Linked DNA regions of Homo sapiens: regions 1, 2 and 4 are each linked to region 3. Evidence: fine-mapped expression QTL. A gene starts in region 3. Each other region holds a variant in brackets. All regions are shown on one strand. Distances are from middle to middle.

Region 1 (5,038 bases), 110 kb after region 3:
CTCCAAAACATTTGAAAAAGCTGCCCATGTTTCTTTATTTGTAAGAGGAAATAAACTCCTCACAATTTGGGGGAAACTCGGCATGCTGGAAGCCCAGTAACCCCTCCCTCCTGGCTGTGGGGGTACTGGTGGGTGTCCCTTGCTCACATGGCAGCCTGGTTGCATTCTAGTCTCTTGCCCGCTCCTGGAGAAATCTGTTCTCTTTTTGGTTTTTGAGTGTTATGAGAGTCAGAGAGGGTTGGAGAGTGTATGTTAGTAATGCATTTGTCTGTAGGCAACTGAAAGCCTCATTTAGAGTGCCTTAAACAAAAGAATTTGTTGTCTTCACATAGCAAGAAGGTTTGCAGTGGTTGCCTACTGACATATGGTTTTGGTGGTTTAACAGTACCAGAGCTGGCTTCTCAGATTTTTAAATTTTTTTATTTTTCCTCATTGTTGCAAGATGGCTGCTACAGCACCAACAGTCACATTCACATTCACTTTCGAGGCAAGAAGAGAAGTGGAAGAAGAGTAGCACTATGCAAATACCCCCTTTTTTTTAAATCAAGGAAATAAAAACCTTCCCAGAATCCCCTAGCAGGTTTCCATTTTTGTTCATAAGTCAGAACTATGTCACATGGCCATACCTACTATAAAGCAGGCAAGGAAAGTATTTAGGTTTTTTATTTGTTTGTTTGTTTTCAGACAGGATCTTGCTCTGTTGCCCAGGCTGGAGTGCAGTGGTGTGATGTATAAGGTCACAGCACACTGGCTTTGACAGCGATCCTCCCACCTTAGCCTCCCAAGCTGGGATCACAGGCACGCACCACTATGCCTGGCTAATTTTTGTATTTACTGTAGAGACAGGGTTTCGCCACGTTGCCCAGGCTGGTCTTGAACTTCTGAGCTCAAGCAATCCACCTGCCCCAGCCTCCCAAAGTGCTGGGATTATAGGTGTGAGCCACTCCGCCTGGCCCCAGTATTTAGTTTTTTTCATCTCTAGGGAAGAGGAGGGTTGGGAATAGATGTTGGGTTAATATCCAATGTTGTCTGCCCCAGGAAACGTGTTTTCCTACAGGAAACAGGCATGAGAAACAAAATTTATCATCTGGTTAAAACTCAGTCATTTGCTCAATACACACAATGCACCCATTACCTGGGTGAAATATTGGAGGCAGAGGGAGGAGTCCGAAGTAGGCCTGGTGGCGGGATGGGGAGAGGAAATATCCTTAACAGCAATGCCCAGGTGTGAGGTGTTCCAACATTTTCCTCCCAAGTCCCAACTTTAGTTTTGGCTCTTAACAGCATTAGAAGGCACTGAGGAGAGTTGGCAAAGCCGGTATCTAAAGGAGTGGGCGGAGGCCTGCTGAGCAGAGGTGGAGTAGCCAGCCTCCCTCTTGGCCTGGCTGTCCCATCCCCACTGTCACCGCTGAGGTCCCTCCTGGGCCTCTTCTCCCTTGCTCTGGGAGGAGCCTCTGTTGCTGTCTGGCTCGCTGTGCCACATTGTCATCCTTGCCCGATTCCCAGCTTCCCCAGACCATCTGACCTGTCCCTTCCTATCCCAGGTCCCCCGAATCCACTGGGACCTGTCCACGGAGCGGGTCCTCCTGATGGAGTTTGTGGATGGCGGGCAGGTCAATGACAGAGACTACATGGAGAGGAACAAGATCGACGTCAATGAGGTGAGGTCAAGAGCTCAGGGCTGCTGTGCCGGGGAACGTGGGCTTGGTCAAGGCTGCCCAGGAAGTGCCTGTGTGTCCAGGTGAGGCCTCAGAGTCTGGCCCCCTTGTCTTTAATAGGGCCCATTGTCTGGAGAATTATAAACTTTGAGCAAGAAAGATTCTTTCAGGTCATTTAGGCCAGCCCTGTGCACACAGCGGCCTGCAGGGACATGCTGAACCCCTTCTGCCATTACCTGCTTTTCCTTTGTACCATCTGAGCCCCACAAAGCTAAGCGGCCACAGAGAACAATGATGCAAAATCAGTGGGACTTAATCCTTTTGGCTCTGTGGGGCCTGTCTGTTGTCTCTTCCCTCTTCCTGCCCTTCTCTCTCCTTCCCACTTCCCAGATCTCAAGGGATCAGGCAAAAAGGGGACAGCAGCAACCAACTGCATCAGCCTCCTAGAGCAGGAAAAAAGAGGTGGGCTTTGTGTGTCCCCCCTCCCATCCCCCTTGTCCCAGGGAATACTGGCCAGTGGGTA[G/A]GACCTGTCCCTCACTTTCTGCTTCTTGGTTGCACAGGGTCCCACAGGAATGGGTGGAGTTGTACTTTTTCAACAACATTCATAATTTCATTTTTATGTTTTTAGAGATGGGGTCTTGCTCTGTTGCCTAGACTGGCGTGCAGTGGCACAATCATAGTTCACTGTAATCTGGAACTCCTGGGCTCAAGCAGTCCTCCCACTTTGGCCTCTCAAAGTGCTGGCATTACAGGTGTGAGCCACGTGGCCAGGCTCAACATTGATCATTTTAATAGTGTCTGCTATATGCTAGGTATGGGGGCTCGCAGGGGGACCAGACCTAGTCCCCAGAGCTTAGCATCAGAGTCAGACACACATCTAAATCCTTGCTGTATCTCAGGCAGCGAGAGGGTGTGAGGAGAACCCCAGGGAGAGTGAGGAAGAGGCACTGAGGCCTGCCACAGGTTGGTGTCCCCAGCAGGATGAGTAGGAGTTTTCCAGGGAGTGGCTTTGCAAGAAGGGGAAGGGAATGGGTGAAGTTTGGCAGGGCTGGGGCAGGATTCCTTGGGGTGTGTGGGGAGATAAAGTAATGGTCTTGGGTGTGACCTTGAGGCACTGTGGAGTCACTTCAGGGTTTTGGGGAGTGCAGCAACATGTTCTGCCCTCTGGGATGGAAGGAAGGAAGTGGGCCACGCCCAGTGGAGGTAAATGCTTTTTTTTTTTTTTTTTTTTTCCCTGAGACGGAGTTTTGCTCTTGTTGCCTAGGCTGGAGTGCAATGGCGCAATCTTGGCTCACTGCAACCTCCGCCTCCTGGGTTCAAGTGATTCTCCTGCCTCAGCCTCCCAAGTAGCTGGGATTACAGGCATGCGCTACCATGCCTGGCTAATTTTGTATTTTTAGTAGAGACAGGGTTTCTCCATATTGGTCAGGCTGGTCTTGAACTCCTGACCTCGGGTGATCCGCCTGCCTCGATCTCCCAAAGTGCTGGGATTACAGGCGTGAGCCACCGCGCCTGGCTGTGAATGCTCTTTTCTATTCCACTCCCCATGTCCACAGGCAGTGCATGAAGATGAGCGTGAGCATGTGGTCCCAATGGGGAGTTGGCCCACAGGAGAAAGCCATACCTTGGCTCAGCAGATGAGCCCAGGGGGGTGGCAGGGGAGTGTGGTGGTTGCACAGGCCTCCTGGTGGCCATGTGACTGCTGTAAATGGGGTCAGTATCTGCCTCTAAGAGGGGCTGTGAAGACTATGTGAGTTAGGGTGCAAACAGTGCTAAGCACAGTGCCTGGTGTGTGGCTAGCATTCCAGAAGAGTAGCTGGGTGGTGGTTGTTGATTTCCTTATATTATCTTTGGGCTCTGTTCTTTCTTTCTCCTTTTACCATTAGCATTTATTGCATGCCTAACTTCCCTGTGCCAGGCCCTTTTCTCCATAATAAACTTATGAGGGTGGTCTCATTGTCTCCATTTTGCAGACAAAGAATCAGAGTCTCAGAGAGAGAAGGTCACACAGCTTAGCAGAGGTGGGATTGAGACCTGAGTCTCCCTGATTTCACTCTTCCTGTTAGGCCACAAAGGAGGGGCCGCATCAAAGTGCACAGAGCTGCTGCCAGGAGCATGGTGGGAACGTTTCTCTGTGGCTGGCTCAGGCCTTCTAGGAAAGCTGTTGTCCCCTGACTTAGGGAACAGTGCTTCAATAACCCATTCAAGGGCCTTGGGGTGTGTGGGATATGGGCAGGCTACACTGAAACAGATACCACTCTGTTTTACCCAGGGCAGCTTTGCCAATGCGTGAGCTGCCTATTGGACTTTTCTGGAAGAGTTCTGCTGCTTGGAGGGAAAGGGATGAGAAAAAGAGTTCATCCTTCTATTTTACAGATGGGGTGAAAAGTTCTGAGAGGGAGCAAATGTCTTTCCTGAGGTCACTTGGCCAGTAACACAAGTCAGGGCTTCTGACTCTGCTGCCTTCACTGGTGGCTTCTAGGGTGGTACATGGGAGGTGTTCAAGCAGAATACAGTCTTTGGTTCCAGTGGCGAAGGGATTCGATGGGATGGGAGGCCACCTCTGGCCTTTCCTGAACGGCCTTAAAGGGAAACAGGGTCTGTCGCCTGCTGATCAGGAAATATCCCAGAGGCCTCATCCCCGCCAGGTTCCTGGCATTTACTTACTACCAGCTGTGGAGGCATTTTCATTCCAGCAACACCCTCAAGTCCATTAATCTCTTTGGATCCAGTGAGCCCAGAGCCGTAATGGTGTTTAATCAGAGGCAACGTTGATTTTCCAAACAAATGCAAACACAGAAAGGTGCGCTCTGGGTAGTTGTTTGCTTATGGCTGAGTGCTGTGCCTGGCCGGAGGGGGCAGCTAGGCTGGAGCTGGGCAGTAGGAGCTGGGCAGGGCGTACCCTCTGAGGACTGGTCTCATCTGCTTCTGCCTCCCCGCTCTTTTGATACCTTGTAGATAAAGCCAGTGGTCTGTGCAGAGCAGATCCTTGGTAGACATTCTTAAATTAGTGAATGGGTAAACAAACCAGCCTCACACCCTAGATTGGCCTCTACCAGGCAGGCCTAGGGGAGAGTGTTGGTTGTTTTCTTGTGGACATGCAGAATGGGGCAAGCTGATATCAGAGTTATTTGGGGAAAAACAATAACTAATAATAATTATAAGCAACTAATATGTGCCAGGCATATGACACACATAATCTCTACTCATTACAGCTCTCCTATACAGTATATATTATTAACCCTATTTACAGATGAGAAAGCAAATGCTCAGAGAGGTTAAACAACTTGCCCCGTATCACACAGCTAGCAGGGGTAGAACCAGGGTTTGAACTCAGGTCTGCATGACTCCAAAGTCCTTGCCCCTCTACCTTCTCCATT
Region 2 (5,038 bases), 45 kb after region 3:
TGACAAATTTAAGCAAATTATAGAAATCATGGCATGTCACCTGTAATTTCAGTGTGCATCTCTAAAAACTGATATTTTTCTAAGTTATCATGTGATTATCTCAGCTAATGATATTAACAGGAGTTCTTTAATTTCATCTAATTTCTATGTGTGTTCACTTGTCCGCCAAATGTGCTGCCTGTTGGTCTTCACATTGTCCCTGAGCTTTGTGCCTATTTTAGCTGTCTCTCTGAGGTTAGAGTGAGGCCTTCTTCCCTGTATCTTTCAGGGTATTTTTTTTTCCTTCCTTCCTTCCTTCCTTCCTTCCTTCCTTCCTTCCTTCCTTCCTTCCTTCCTTCCTTCCTTCATTTCCTCCCTCCCTCCTTCCCTTCCTCCCTTCCTTCCTTTCTATTTTTTTTTGTTTGTTTGTGATGGAGTCTCACTCTGTCACCCAGGCTGGAGTGCAGTGGCACAATCTTGCAATCTCCGTCTCCTGGGTTCAAGCAAATCTCCTGCCTCAGCCTCCAGAGCAGCTGGGATTACAGGCATGCACCACCACGCCCAGCTAATTTTTGTATTTTTAGTAGAGACAGGTTTCACCATGTTGGCCAGGCTTGTCTTGAACTGCTGACCTCAAGTGATCCACCTGCCTTGGCCTCCCAAAGTGCTGGGTTTACAGGTGTGAGCCATTGTGCCTGGTCGAGGGTATTTTTTCTTTTTCTTTTCTTTTCTTTTCTTTCTTTCTTTTTTTTTTTTTTTAAGACTAGGTCTTTTTCTGTCATCCAGGCTGGAATGCTGTGGCTGAAACATGGCTCACTGCATCCTCCACCTCCTGGGTTCAAGTGATTCTCCTGCCTCAGCCTCCTGAGTAGCTGGGATCACAGGTGTGTGCCACTACTCCTAACTAATTAAAAAATTTTTTTTGTAGACATGGGGTCTTACTAAGTTGCCCAGGCTGGTCTCAAACTCCTGGCTTCAAGTGATTCTCCCATCTCAGAATCTCAAAATGCTGGGATCACAGGCGTGAGTAACCTTGTCTAGCCAGAGTTTTGTTTTCTATTCTTTCCCACCAGCCCCCAAGAGCCCCAGGCTTTGAGGAAATGAAAAAGACTCCTGTCCCACATTCAGGCCTGTGGCCTGAGCAAGCATGGTGGGGAAGGGAAGCAGGCTGGCTGCTGCATTCTGCTCGCGGCCTAACACTTGTTTTTCTTGACTGTAATTGCCATTCCAGAGATGCCCTCACTCTTCTAGCCGCTGAACAACTGTTGAGAACAAATTAATTATGCATCTTCTCAGTGTGTGTGATTAAGGGGCAGATGGAGGGAAGGGTCCTCTTCAGCTTTTCTGGCAACTGGGTTCCCAAATGGATGCTTTCCAGACCAAAGAGTACATGTCCTGGGCTCCTGTGGGCATCTGGGTTTGTCTGTGTGATGGCAGGCTTGCTCACTGGCAGGCAGAGTCACAAGTTGCCAGTAATAATATTATTAATCCCTTAAATTTGCAGCCCATTTGCTGTTTGCTGAGGGCTTGCACAGTCACATCAGCTCATTTGTTGGGATTTCAGGGATGCTGGAACAACTTTCTTTGCTTAATTCTTCCCTAAATCATTATTGATGCTTGTAATTCCACCATTAGAAAGTAATTCCTTTCGCTTAAACTCTGTTCTCTATTAAAATGCAAGTATCCTTGGCAGCTGTGTTGTATGTTTTATTCATTAAGCTTTCTTAGCCACTAGCAACTGCCCTCTCCAGATACCCCCATCTGCCACCTTCCTTTTAGGATGGGCTTCTCTGAAACAGAACTTACATTTGGAAACTGTCCCATTTCATAGAAATCTGCTCTAGGTTAGTTGCTCTGGCTGGAAAGAGACAGGTAAAGAAACTCCTGCCAGGATGTGAATGACTGATCATAATTTCTTTTTTTCTTTTTTTTTTCTGGAGACAGAGTCTCACTCTGTTGCTCAGGCTGGAGTGCAGTGATGTGATCTCCCCTTACTGCAACCTCTGCCTGGAGGTTCAAGCAATTGGGTTCAAGCAATTCTTGTGCTTCAACTTCCCAAGTAGCTGGGACTACAAGCGCACACCACCATGCCCGGTGAATTATTTTTGTATATTACTAGAGACAGGGTTTCACCATGTTGGCCAGGATGATCTTGATCTCCTGACCA[C/T]GTGTTCCAACCACCTCGACCTCCCAAAGTGCTGGGATTACAGATGTGAGCCACCACGCCTGGCCTGATCATAATTTCTTATGTTACCACCTCTAGGGAAGATTCTTATTTTGACTGGAACCTTCTGGAAACAGTGCTCAATGCAAAGGAACCGGTGTCCCTTCATCCTATCATGTCAGTGGCGTTGGTCTTAGCTCTCCCCCCTGTTGGACTCCCTTAGAGAGGCAGTGTGGGGAGCCGGCCCCGTCAGGTCCACCAAGAGCAGACTCGGTCTGTGTAACTCAGATTGGGCGTTGGCCTGGAGTGTAGTTCATTGGGACAGGGGAGAAAATGGAGCTGACCACATAGATGATGGTGTGACAGACTGTCCATCTTGCAGAAGGAAGACTGAGGCATAGAGACAATAATCTACTTGGAGTTGGGGCTAGAATTAAAATTTTGTCTTTAGAACCCCAGTAACAGTTATAGGTTTTTAAGAGTCAGAAGACACCTTAGAAACATCTAGCTCTGGGAAAGCAAAGACATTTCATTTGCAAACTCCACTTGATTAGTAGTGGTTGTCTGAGTGCAGGTTGGAGAATAGGCAAGTCGTCACCTGGACTCAGAGTGCGTGCTGTGGTTGATTAGTGATGTCTGATGTGTGCCACGGGCACAGTAACAGAGGAGAGGCGCATATGCACTCACTTCCTATTCCTGACCCTGCTCAACTTCTCAATTTACAGATGAGCTGAGGCCCAACAAGCTGAGATGATTTGTTCAGGATTGCATAAGTAGGGGCAGTAATTGGCAGAATTGTCCCAGAATCCAGGTCCCTTGAGTCTTGATTCAAAACTTTTTCTTCTGAATTATACTGGTATTCTAAGAGGTATTTCATTATGGTCTTGGAGTTAGACTGCCGGGATTCAGATCCCAGCTCTGCCACTAATAAGCTGTGTGGCCTTAGCCAAGCCATTTAACCTTTCTGAGCCTTAACTTCATCTTTAAAAGAGAGGATAATAATTATGCCTACCATAAATGAGAAAATACATGTATAAAGGGTTCAGAGTAGGGCCTAACACATAGTAAATACTTAATCCATGATAGTAGCTCAATTAAAATGTTCCTTTTTTTTTCTTCCTTTTTGTTGAGACTGGGTCTTGCTCTGTCACCTAGGCTGGAGTGCAGTGGCACAATCTCAGCTCCTTGCAACCTCCATCTCCCGGGTTCAAACAGTTTTCCTGCCCCAGCCTCCTGAGTAGCTGGGACTACAGGCACATGCATCACCACACCCGGCTCATTTTTGTATTTTTAGTAGAGATGAGGTTTCACCATGTTGACCAGGTTGGTCTCGAGTTCCTGGCCTCAAGTGATCTGCCCACCTCGGCCTCTCAAAGTGCTGGGATTACAGGCATGAGCCACCGCACCTGGCCAAAATGTTCCTTTTTAAATTGCTTTATCTTTCTAGATTCTTGGTGGACACAGACACAAAATCATCCCCTGCTCACTCCCTCTGCAGTATCCCTCAGAGTTGCCTGTCAGAAATACCTGCTTCTCTTTCTTTTCCATGGTATGCTCTGGAATCATTTGGGTTTGAAGTGCTCCTGGAATTTGCAATTTCATAATGAAAAGTCCCACAGTACTAATAACCAGGTGTGAGATGGTGCTGGATCTGTAACTACCTGTGGCTCTGGGGCAGCTTTTGCTATCGTACTTCACACTCCAGAAGTTCATTTTGGTTTGGGTGTGTGATGCAGCTCTGGAGGCTTGGCTGTGGTTCCCCAAGAACCAGCTGCCACATGGGGCCTCTCTTGGCCATTTTGCTTAGTTGCTCCTCTGACCAGAACATCACTATAGTATCTCCTTCCGACCATCTCTGCTCCCCTAAGCCAGTGTATCTTCTCCCACCTACCCTGAACCTCGTTCTTAGACTGGACTTCAATAGCCAGCTGGTGCCACCCCCGTCTTCTCACAGCTGCCTCTCCTATAGGCTTAGAAAGCAGGGCCTAGTCAAAGCCTAGACCCAAAGCTATGCTATGGTCCTCTCCCCATCTTAATCCAGCCATGCAGGACCCTGGGTAACAGTTCCCTTTGGGTGACCCTGAGGGGGACCCAGGGAAGCCTTGAGAAGCAGTCGGAGTCCATGACTGTCCTGGAAGCCAGGCCTGGTGTGATGGGGCTTTGAGCTGACCCCTGCATGATTCAAGACAGGACTGTGGAGGGCTTTCTGGGTGTCTTGTGATGGGCAGGTGGCTCTCATTGAGTGAATCATCTGTGATTCCATATCCTGACTGGTTTTTGGGAAAAACCCCTGTTCTGGATCCTCCAACAGAGACCCTCTAGTGATCTGCCCAGCTGATCCCTGCTGAGAAAGGGCAGAGTGGGGGCTGGTGGGAAGGAGGCCTTCCCACTGGGGAACGGTCAAGTCATTGTCCCTGACATTGGAAAGCTCTGTTGCTCTGGGTCTCTCACTGGGTCCCAGACTCGTTTGGTTGCAACCTGGCCATGTCTAGGGTTGCTCCCCTGCTTTTTCTTCTGTGGACCCGAAGCGGAGAAGCTGATCATATCCATGGAGCTGCTGCATGGGCAGAAGCCCCATCTTCTCCAAGAGAGGCTCAGACAAAAAGAGGATTTTGAGCCACACTGGGTGAAAGGAACTCCTTGCTCTGCCCTTCATCCTGGGATTGTGGAAGGCAGTAACATCACTTGTGAGAGGGGAGAGGCGTGGCACGGAGAATGGGTCAAGTCAGGACTAGGAGGAGGTGAAGGGAGGCAGGCTTGGGTCCAGGCTGAGAGGATTTTTCGCAGGTGAAAAGGAGAGTGGTGTGGTGAGATTATGGAGATGCTATGCAAGGGCCTGGGGGCAGGGGATGGCACAGGAGAGAGCTGATAACTGTGGTTGGAGGGTAGAGAGTG
Region 3 (5,038 bases):
TTTTTTGTTTTTTGTATTTTTTTTTTTTTTTGAGACAAAGTCTCGCTCTGTCACCCAGGCTGGAATTCAGTGGTATGATCTTGGCTCACTGCAACATTTGTCTCCCGGGTTCAAGGATTCTCTTGCCACAGCCTTCTGAGTAGCTGGGATTACAGGTGTGCACCACCATGCCTGGCTAATTTTTGTATTTTAGTAGAGATGGGGTTTTACCATGTTGGCCAGGCTGGTGATGAACTCCTGACCTCAACTGATCCACCTGCCTTAGCCTCCCAACGTGCTGGGATTACAGGCACGAGCCACTGCGCTGCCCTTTGTTTTTTCATACACACTTTTGATTAGTTTGTGAAGGTCCAGAAAAAATTATGTTGGAAATTTGATTGGAACTGCATTGGACTGATAGATTAATTCCCCCATGAAAAAAATAGCTCAAGAGATGTTTATAGAATAAACAAACGTCTGAGGCCTGGCGTGGTGGCTCACACCTGTAATCCCAGCACTTTGGGAGGCCAAGGCCAGAGGATGGCTTAGCACAGAAATTCGAGACCAGCCTGGGCAATATAGTGAGACCACACCCCCCAGCTTTTCTTGAGAAAAAATTTAAAAAATTTAGCCAGGCGTGGCAGTATGTGCTTGTAGTCCCAGCTACTCCACAGACTGAGGCAGGAGGGTACCTTGAGGACAGGAAGTTGAGGCTACAGTGATGGAGCCTCTACACTCCAGCTTGGGCAACACAGCCAGACCCTGTCTCAAAAAAAAAAAGAGAAATGTTTTTGATACATGTCTTCAAAGTGCATCTTATAAGTCAACATTTGATAATGGAGATCAGTGAATGAATGAATAAGGGCCAAAGATAACTAAGATTAGCTAGCATATTATATTTATTTATTTATTTATTTTGAGACGAGTCTTGCTCTGTTGCCCAGGCTGGAGTGCAGTGGCCCAATCTCAGCTCACTGCAACCTCCACCTCCTGGGTTCAAGCAATTCTCCCACCTCAGCCTCCCGAGTAGTTGGGATAACAGGTGCCCGCCACTATGCTGGGCTAATTTTTCTTTTTCTTTTTTTTCTTTTTGGAGACAGAGTCTCACTCTGTTGCCTAGGCTGGAGTGCAGTGGCGTGATCTCAGCTCACTGCAACCTCCGCCTCCCGGGTTCAAGCGATTCTCCTGCCTCAGCTTCCTGAGTAGCTGAAATTCCAGACGTGCACCACCACACCAGGCTAATTTTTGTATTTTTAGCAGAGACAGATTTCACTATGTTGGCCAGGCTGGTCTCAAATTCCCGGCCTCAAGTGGTCCGCCCACCTTGGCCTCCCAAGGTGCTGGGATTACAGGAATGAGCCACCGCACCCGGCTTAATTTTTCTATTTTTAGTAGAAATGGGGTTTCACTATGTCGGCCTGGCTGGTCTCCAACCCCTAGCCTCAGGTGATCTGCCCGCCTCAGCCTCCCAAAGTGCTGGGATTACAGGTGTGAGCTACTGCGTCCTGCCCAGCCAGCATTATTATTATTATTTTTGAGACGGAGTTTCGCTGTTGTTGCCTAGGCTGGAGTGCAATGGCGTGACCTCGGCTCACCGCAACTTCTGCCTCCCGGGTTTCTAGTGCCTCAGCCTCCTGAGTAGCTGGGATTACAGGCATGCACCACTAGGCCTGGCTAATTTTTGCTATTATTAGTAGGGACGGGGTTTCTCCATGTTGGTCAGGTTGGTCTCAAACTCCCGACCTCAGGTGATCTGCTAGCCTTGGCCTGCTGGGATTACAGGCGTGAGCCACCGCCCCGCCAGCATACATCAATTGTCAGTAAATTTCTTCTTCGCCTACTAGTTCCAATATCTTATTTAAAATCTATGGCCCGGTGAGGTGGCTCAGGCTTGTAATCCCAGCACTTTGGGAAGTCAAGGCGGGTGGATTGCCTGAGTTCAGGAGTTCAAGACCAGCCTGGGCAAAATGGCGAAACCCCGTCACTCCTAAAAATACAAAAAATTAGCAGGGCGTGGTAGCACACTCCTGTAATCCCAGCTACTCAGGAGGCTGAGGCAGGAGAATCACTTGAACCCGGGAGGCGGAGGTTGCAGTGAGGCGAGATGGGCCACTGCACTCCAGCTTGGGCGACAGAGTGAGACTCTGTCTCAAAATGAATGAATGAATGAATGAATGAATGAATAAAATCTACGAGGTCGGGCGCAGTGGCTCACTCTTGTAATCCCAGCACTTTGGGCGGGCGGATCATTTGAGGTCAGGAGTTTGAGACCGGCTTGGCCAACATGGTGAAACCCCATCTCTAAAAAAAATACAAAAATTAGCTGTACTGCTTGGGCGACAGAGCGAGACTCAGTCTCAAAAAAAAAAAATCTACAAATCCACTTCATCTTTCATTAAACACGAACCTGGGACGTAGTTAGAATGTCTTGAAGAAAATATTTCAGTAATATTCCAAGTCCGTCGCCCTGGCAAAGCAACAAGGCCACCTGACGGAGTAAGCCCGAGACCCCTGTGCCTCCACAGTACTGCCCGCGGGATCGCGGCGTGGGGAACCAGGAACTACAAGTCCCGGCAGGCCGCGCGCGCCTCGGCTTCACTAAGCGCAGTCAGGTGGCTGTCCCCGCACGGTTCCCAGCTAATTCCCCGCTACCGGGTTGCGGCCGGAAGCCGGGCGCCGCGGCTCTGCTTCCCTCGGGGTGAGTAGGGGCAGCTCGCCGGAGGCCGGCGCAGAGCTCGGGCCGACCAGCCTGGCAGGGCCGCACCGCGCCTGGAGCGCGAGGGAACCGGCATGGACACGCCGGGAGTCGGCCTCTGCTCCGGTTGTGCAGCCGCCCTGGGCGCCGGGAGGGACAGCCCCATGACCTTGTCACCTGGGCCCGGCGCGCGGCCACGTGGCTCGGGTGACTCGCATTGCCCCGCCCCCCTGCAGTGACTTCTCCAGTTTGGCACACCAGTGGGCTTTCATGTGACCTGTCCACTTCAGTGGCACAGTCTTGCAGGCACCCGAGTGGGCAGAGCTGGAGGAGGGCCGGAGGTGGCTCACCCAGACGCCTTCACCCCCTGGTGGCCCTGTGAGTTCCGAGGCAGAAGCAGCTGGAGCTGGAGCGTGGTCTGGGCAAGAGCAGGGGGCGATGCCCATATCCTGGCCCTCCACCCGGTCTTGCGAACGTGCCCCAGACCGCTGCTTATCTCCAGCATCTTGCAGGGCCCTGGGCTTCCAGATCACACAGTAGATATGTGCTAACAGCAGCCAGTGTGTGTGGAGAGCAACCTTTAGATAAGACACCTAGAACAGCCCTCTCCCAGGGTTAAGTGGCATTTACTTTCTACTAACAAGAAAGTCATTCAACAAGTATTTATTGTTTACCTCCATGATACTTGGCACTTAGTAGGTGCTCAAGAAATATTTGCAGAGTTGAAGTGAATTAGACTTTATCTGTGGCTTCATATGTTTTATTTAATAATTTTCTTGGGGCTGGATGTGGTGGCTGATGCCTGTAATCCCAGCACTTTGGGAGGCCAAGATGGGAGGATTGCTTGAGGGCAGGAGTTCAACACCAGGCTGGGCAACATAGTGAGACTCCCGTCTGTATTAAAAGAAAAAAAGGAAAATAAATAAAATAATTTTCTTACTACAGTGGTTCTCAAACTTTAGCATGCACCAGAGTCACCTGGAGAGCTAGTAACAACACACAGTACTGGACCCCATCCCCAAAGTTTCTGATTCTGTAAGTCTGGTATGAGGACCAAGAATTGGCGTTTCTAACATGCACCCAAGTGATGCAGTTGCTGTTGGTCTGGGGACCATACGTTGAGTACCACTGCTTTATAGGAAAAAAAATCCTGTGAACTTAAAGCACTATCTCTTCACACCTGGTTACGGGTCTTTCTGTCTTTATTTGCCAGTTTTACTTTTTTGGTGATTGTAAATATGTGCATATTACTTTGTACACTGTTAACTCCCTCCATATTAATTTATATACAGATTTTAATGTAGTCTATACTTGTCATTTTTCCTGGTTACATCATATTCTACCTTATTGGGTCATTCTTTGCTTGGCCATTTCTCAACTGGCCTCAGGGATGTGCGATTTGATCTGTACTAGAAGAGTGTGCATATTCTTACTTTCTGCTATGCAGTCATTTTCTTGTCAGACAAAGGACCTGTAAGAATATTAGTTGGGGCCGGGTGCGGTGGCTCACACCTGTAATCCCAGCACTTTGGGAGGCTGAGGTGGGCGAATCACTTGAGGTCAGGCGTTCAATGCCAGCCTGGCCAACATGGTGAAACCCCATCTCTACCAAAAATACAAAAAAATTACCTGGGCGTAGTGGTGTGTGCCTGTAGTCCCAGCTACTTGGGAGGCTGAGGAGGAGAACAGCTTGAACCCGGGAGACGGAGGCTGCAGTGAGCCGAGATCGTGTCACTGCACTCCAGCCTGGGCGACTGAGCAAGACTCCGTCTAAAAAAAAAAAATTTAGTTGGGTCAGCCATCCATTTCTTCACCAGGGTAACTCACTAAATATGCCTCCTGGGTTAAGGTTTCCATGTTGCAGGGACTCCAGTGGCCTATTTCAGGGCCCAGCAAGCTGCTTGTTCTTGTGCACTTTTTGCTCTCTTGGTGGGAGCAGTCATACATGGATTCAAGTTCTGCCTCCATCACTTACCAGCTCCTTGGCCAAGTTTTCTACCTTTTCTAAAACACCACTTCCTTATCCATAGATTGAAGCTCTAATAGCATGCACCTCGGAATCTGGTTGTGTGAGTTAATGAGCTAATAAGTGCTTGGTACTGTAGCTCTCCCGTTGGAAGCTCACTCTCTTCTCTTACCTGCTGCTTGCTCTTTGCATCTGGCTTTGCCCTATTCTCCCTCAGTCTGCCTTTCCTAGGATGGACTGAATGGAGGATTTCTATTCCTTGCCTGGGTGAGAATTATTTTTGTTGTCTATTCTGGGACCTTGGCATCAGTCAGGGATTCCTTTTTTTATTTTTTGAGACAGAGTGTTGCTCTGTCGCCCAGGCTGGAGTGCAGTGGCACGATCTTGGCTCACTGCAG
Region 4 (5,038 bases), 99 kb after region 3:
TTGTAGTTAATAGTCTGGCTTTAGATTGATTTCTTTTGCCAACACAGCATTGGGCAAAATATCATAGAACAGGGCAAAAAGAAGCATGAGACAAGGCTTTTATCTGGGGCTCAGTAAGTCTTTCTGGAAAGATGGGAAGGGGAAGGTCTTTTGGTACCAACAGGCCCACAGCTTGTTAGTTCTTATTGCCATCTGCTATAGCCAGGGTTAGAGATGGTTGTTCTCAGATAACTCGGACTGTCATTTATACTAAGAATTACTGGGTCAATCAGTCAATGTTCTCCCCAGGCCTGGCTTCGAATGCCAGCAGGAGAGCTTATGGGAGGTCAGGGCCCTTCTGTTTCCCTCCCAGAATTCTGGAACACCTCCTATGTCCCTGGTATCACCCTTGCTCACCCACTACAGAGCCATCATCCAGGAACTTGGGCACCCATCTCAAATCCAGGGCCCTGGTGGTGGGGCAGCCTTAGGATTGTGTCTCTGCTCATGGCAGGGGCTGTGGTATGCTGTGCACAGATCACTGGGCTCTTCTTTAATTTCACATCATTAAACTGACCCCTGAATGCCAGATACATCTTCTAAAACCCCCTCTTAACATGTCATCACTCAAGAATCCACAGTGGAGTCAAATTGCCAAAAATCAAAGCTTTTCATCCAAGTGGTCAAATTCCTTCTCTCTGTCTCCTCTCGTCTTATCCAGCTTTGTTTTCTTATTCCAATTTAGTTTTTTATTATGAAACATTTTAGACGTACAGAAAGTATAGAAAATAGTATTATAAATGTTCAAGCACCAAACATTCAACTTAAGAAATAAAGTAATGACAGTTACATTTGCAGCACCCTCCCAGTGCTTTGTGAACAGACCAGAACAGATCGGGGAGCAGCCACAGCAGCAGTTGAGCTAAGTGTTTCAGAGCAAGGGCTGTAGAGTTGGCTGTGGAATTCCCAGGGGGAATTCTAGCTCGGTACTTCCTTGCTGGGCAGATTTTTTGAAAATCATATAACCCCTCAGAGCCTCAAATTCCTCATCTATAAAATGGGATAGCACTTTGGTAGGCTGAGGCAGGAGGACTGCTTGAGGACAGGAGCTTGAGACCAACCTGGGCAACACAGTGAGACTCTGTCTCTACAAAAAAATTAAAAAAATTAGCTGGGCATGGTGATGCATATCTGTAATCCCAGCCACTCAGGAGGCTGAGGTGGGAGGATCACTTGAGCCTTGGAGGTCAAGGTTGCAGTGAACTGTGATTGATCACGCCACTGCATTCCAGTCTGGGCTACAGAGTGACATCTTGTCTAAACAACAGAAAAGGGATGATAAGATGTGTATCTGTGTGCCTCCCAGAGTTGTTGCAAGGATTAAGTTTAGTAGTAAGTAAAGTGCTTAGTTTACTATTCGCAGTAGCAAAGATGTGGAATCAACCCAAATGCCCATCAATGGGAGACTGGATAAAGAAAATGTGGTAGATATACACCATGGAATACTATGCAACCATAAAAAGGAATGAGATCATGTCCTTTGCAGGGTCATGGATGAAGCTGGGAGCCATTATCCTCAGCAAACTAATGCAGGAACAAAAAAACCCAAAGACCGCTTGTTCTCACTTATAAGTGGGAACTGAACAATGAGAACACATGGACACAGGGAGGGGAACAACACACCTGGGGCCTGTTGGGCGACGGTTGGGGGGTGGGGGAGAGCATTAGGAAAAAGAGCTAATGCATGCCAGGCTTAATACCTAGGTGATGGGTTGATAGGTGCAGTAAACCACCATGACACACGTTTACCTATGAAACAAGCCTGCACATCCTACACACATATCCCAGAACTTAAAAAATAAAATAAAATAAAAAATAAGTGCTTAGTTAGTGCTGGGCACGAGGGGAACCCTCAGCAAGTGGTAGTCATGGTTACCGATGCTGGCTGTTGGGCTATCATCATCTTGGACTTGGTGCAGAGTACCAAGCTTATGGGAGAGCAGGAGCCTACTATGTTTCCCTCCTGGAATTCAGAGGAGGGATGGGCCCCAGGGGAGCAGTTTCCCTTACTCTAGGGGAGAACCAGGCAGGAAGGTAGGGAATGTCCCTTGGTATATGCTGTGGGCCAAATGACTGGGGTGCTTGTTGGATTTCAGGTGCTCGTTCTGGCTGTGAAGCAGCTGTTCCCAGAGTTTGAGTTTATGTGGCTTGTGGATGAAGCCAAGAAGAACCTGCCTTTGGAGCTGGATTTCCTCAATGAAGGGAGGAATGCTGAGAAGGTGTCCCAGATGCTCAGGCATTTTGACTTCTTGAAGGTAGGTGGGACGATGCAATGCAGGGTATGGTGGTCTGGTGGAAGAGTGTAGCGGTATGTGGGTCCCTGCCTTGAGCATCCCTTTCAGGACATAATTGGGACATCTTCTTCCTGAGTCCTCTTACTGAGGATGAATGACATCACTGGTGATGTGCATTAAATCACTTGAAGGCAATTTGCAAAGAAATATCAAGTGTGATTGTTGACCCATTAGTCAATTAAACAGATGTTTATTGAATAATCGACAACTACAAGACACTGAGCCTTAGCCAAGAACCTATATGCCGTGGTCTCTGCCTCTGTGAGGCATGGGATGGTGATGATGATGGCGATGCTGATAGCTAACACTACTGTACGCTGGGACTGTTTTAAACACATGTGTTTTACCTTGGCTCATACAGTTGGTTCTTCTGTAACAAAACATATGTGTCCCTAGAAATACTGCAGTTATGGAAAATCACATAAGAGAAACCACAGAGCTTATGGGGAAAATAGAGTTAGGGGCACAACACTCAAAAAAATTCATCAGTGGCTGGGCACAGTGGCTCACACCTGTAATCCCAGCACTTTGGGAGGCTGAGGCAGGTGGATCACCTGAGGTCAGGAGTTCGAGACCAGCCTGGCCAACATGGTGAAACCTCGTCTCTACTAAAAATATAAAAATTAGCCTGG[C/T]GTGGTGGCATGTGCCTGTAATCTCAGCTGTTTGGGAGGCTGAAGCAAGAGAATCACTTGAACCCGGGAGGTGGAGATTGCAGTGAGCTGAGATCACGCCACTGCATTCAGGTCTGGGCAACAAGAGTGAAACTCCGTCTCAAAAAAAAAAAAAAAGAAAATTCATCAGTAATACAGTAATATAGGAAAGAAAAGAAGATAGGAATGAATAAAAACCAGTAGCATAGTTTTACACATGTTAAATGGCTAAGAAATACATAAGACCACAATACACATGGCACTTTACCTTGAGCCTGCTGTGGAAGTGGGCATCAGAAGGGTTGCTGCTTGTTAGTTTTGTGGGGTGGTGGGAGGAGTCCTTTGAAATGGGACGGAGGCTGGGCATGGTGGCTGATGGCAGTAATCGCAGTTCTTTGGGAGGCGGAGGTGGGCAGATCACTTGAGGGAAGGAGTTCAAGACCAGCCTGGCCAACATGGTGAAACCCTGTCTCTACTAAAAATACAAAAAGTAGCTGGGCATGGTGGTGCACTCCTGTAATCTCAGCTACTCGGGAGGCTGAGACAGGAGAATCGCTTGGACCCAGGAGGCAGACGTTGTAGTGAGCTGAGATCATGCCATTGCATTGCAGCCTGGGCAACAGAGCGAGACTGCGTCTCAAGGAACAACAACAACAACAAAAAAGAAATGGGACAGAAAGTTGTAAGGCCAGATGTGGGTGACTCACCGACTCGCAGCGATGTCGAGGTGTGTTTGTTTTGTGTATTCCAATGTGGCACGGCTCTGCTGGATGCAGCTTTCTGCATTCACAGTGTTTCTCGCAGATGATAGTACACATAAGCACATCCAAAATTTGCATTATGATCAAACTATTCCCTAACATATCAATTGCATTGGAACAAATTTGTGTTTTCAAAACAAGTATTATAGCAGAACTGTTCTATGTAATAAGAGACACTTAATGTGGGAAACAATATCAGATAATATGAAGTCGCAGCTGTCAGTGCCCCATGAGAAGTACGGCTTCTACATGCTCTGAGGATTCAGAAGTAGGGACTCCCATGGCCTACTGGGTCAGGGCAGGCTCTGCTGAGAAGTTGGCACTAGAGTTGGTGTTCTTTTTTTTTTTTTTTTTGAGACAGAGTCTCGCTCTGTTGCCCAGACTGGAGTGCAGTGGCGCGATCTCAGCTCACTGCAGTCTCCGCCTCCTGGGTTCAAGTAATTCTCCTGTCTCAGTCTCCCAAGTAGCTGGGATCATAGGCATGTGCCACCATGCCTTACTAATATTTGTATTTTTTTTTTTAGTAGAGATGGGGTTTCACCATGTTGTCAGGCTAGTCTTGAACTCCCGACCTCAAATGATTTGCCCACTTTGGCCTCCCAAAGTGCTGAGATTACAGGTGTGAGCCACTGCTCCTGGCCCTGGAGCTGGTCCTTTTTTTTTTTTTTTAATTAATTATTTTATTATTATGATTTTTCTGAGTCAGAGTCTCACTCTGTCACCCAGGCTGGTGCGTAGTGGTGCAATCTCTGCTCACTGCAACCTCCACCTCCCGGGTTCAGGCGATTCTCCTGCCTCAGCCTCCTGAGTAGCTAGGACTACAGGTGTGTGCCACCACACCTGGCTAATTTTTGTATTTTTAGTAGAGACACGGTTTTGCCATTTTGGCCAGGCTGGTCTCAAACTCCTGACCTCAAATGATCCGCCTGCCTCGGCCTCCCAAAGTGCTGGGATTATAGGCGTGAGCCACCGCGGCCGGCCGGAGCTGGTCTTTAAGGACCATCCTGGTGTTCTCTCAGAGCACACAGGAACTGGGGAGAGAGATGTATGCTACACCACTGTTCTTCCAACACATTTGTCCTTCCTGAGGTGTATGCCTATTAAAACAGGGTTACCCCCTTTATCCCAACAGTGCAGGGCTTGGAGGGCTCTTCTGGTTGTCTACACTGAGCTTAGCTTCCAACTCTAGGATGGATCACCCTTCCCTCTTCTTTACCAGGCCTGGAGAATGCACGAGAGGGGTCACCAAGCCCTCAGGAGCTCCATGTGCAGGTTCTAGAGCCAACAGTCAAGC

Alleles and levels. Positions count from the first base shown, and alleles are read on the strand shown. Sizes are in standard deviations (SD) of each study's normalised expression. Not every link is listed here.
For the expression in cerebellar hemisphere of the gene that starts at base 2,616 in region 3, allele A in region 1 goes with a lower level than allele G (moderate effect, 0.59 SD a copy in GTEx).

Evidence for each region.
Region 1: its variant is fine-mapped to the expression of ADCK1 in cerebellar hemisphere (GTEx, PIP above 0.99). The same link has a PIP of 0.9 or more in breast and spinal cord.
Region 2: its variant is fine-mapped to the expression of ADCK1 in whole blood (INTERVAL, PIP above 0.99).
Region 4: its variant is fine-mapped to the expression of ADCK1 in tibial nerve (GTEx, PIP 0.98).

What each region holds. Positions count from the first base shown.
Region 1 is chr14:77,906,259-77,911,296 of GRCh38, forward strand. ADCK1 (aarF domain containing kinase 1) reads left to right here. Exons shown (of 11, transcript NM_020421.4): 7 at 1,545-1,661. Among named protein-coding and RNA genes, the nearest start is that of ADCK1, 110 kb to the left of the region's middle. The variant G/A (reference allele first, on the strand shown) is at 2,182.
Region 2 is chr14:77,842,170-77,847,207 of GRCh38, forward strand. The region is part of intron 3 of ADCK1 (aarF domain containing kinase 1); the gene reads left to right. Among named protein-coding and RNA genes, the nearest start is that of ADCK1, 45 kb to the left of the region's middle. The variant C/T (reference allele first, on the strand shown) is at 2,147.
Region 3 is chr14:77,797,494-77,802,531 of GRCh38, forward strand. ADCK1 (aarF domain containing kinase 1) reads left to right here and starts at 2,616. Exons shown (of 11, transcript NM_020421.4): 1 at 2,616-2,677. RefSeq lists enhancers at 1,941-2,479, 2,480-3,018, 3,092-3,141, 3,152-3,231, 4,613-5,038 and a silencer at 2,542-2,901.
Region 4 is chr14:77,896,965-77,902,002 of GRCh38, forward strand. ADCK1 (aarF domain containing kinase 1) reads left to right here. Exons shown (of 11, transcript NM_020421.4): 6 at 2,136-2,294. Among named protein-coding and RNA genes, the nearest start is that of ADCK1, 99 kb to the left of the region's middle. The variant C/T (reference allele first, on the strand shown) is at 2,966.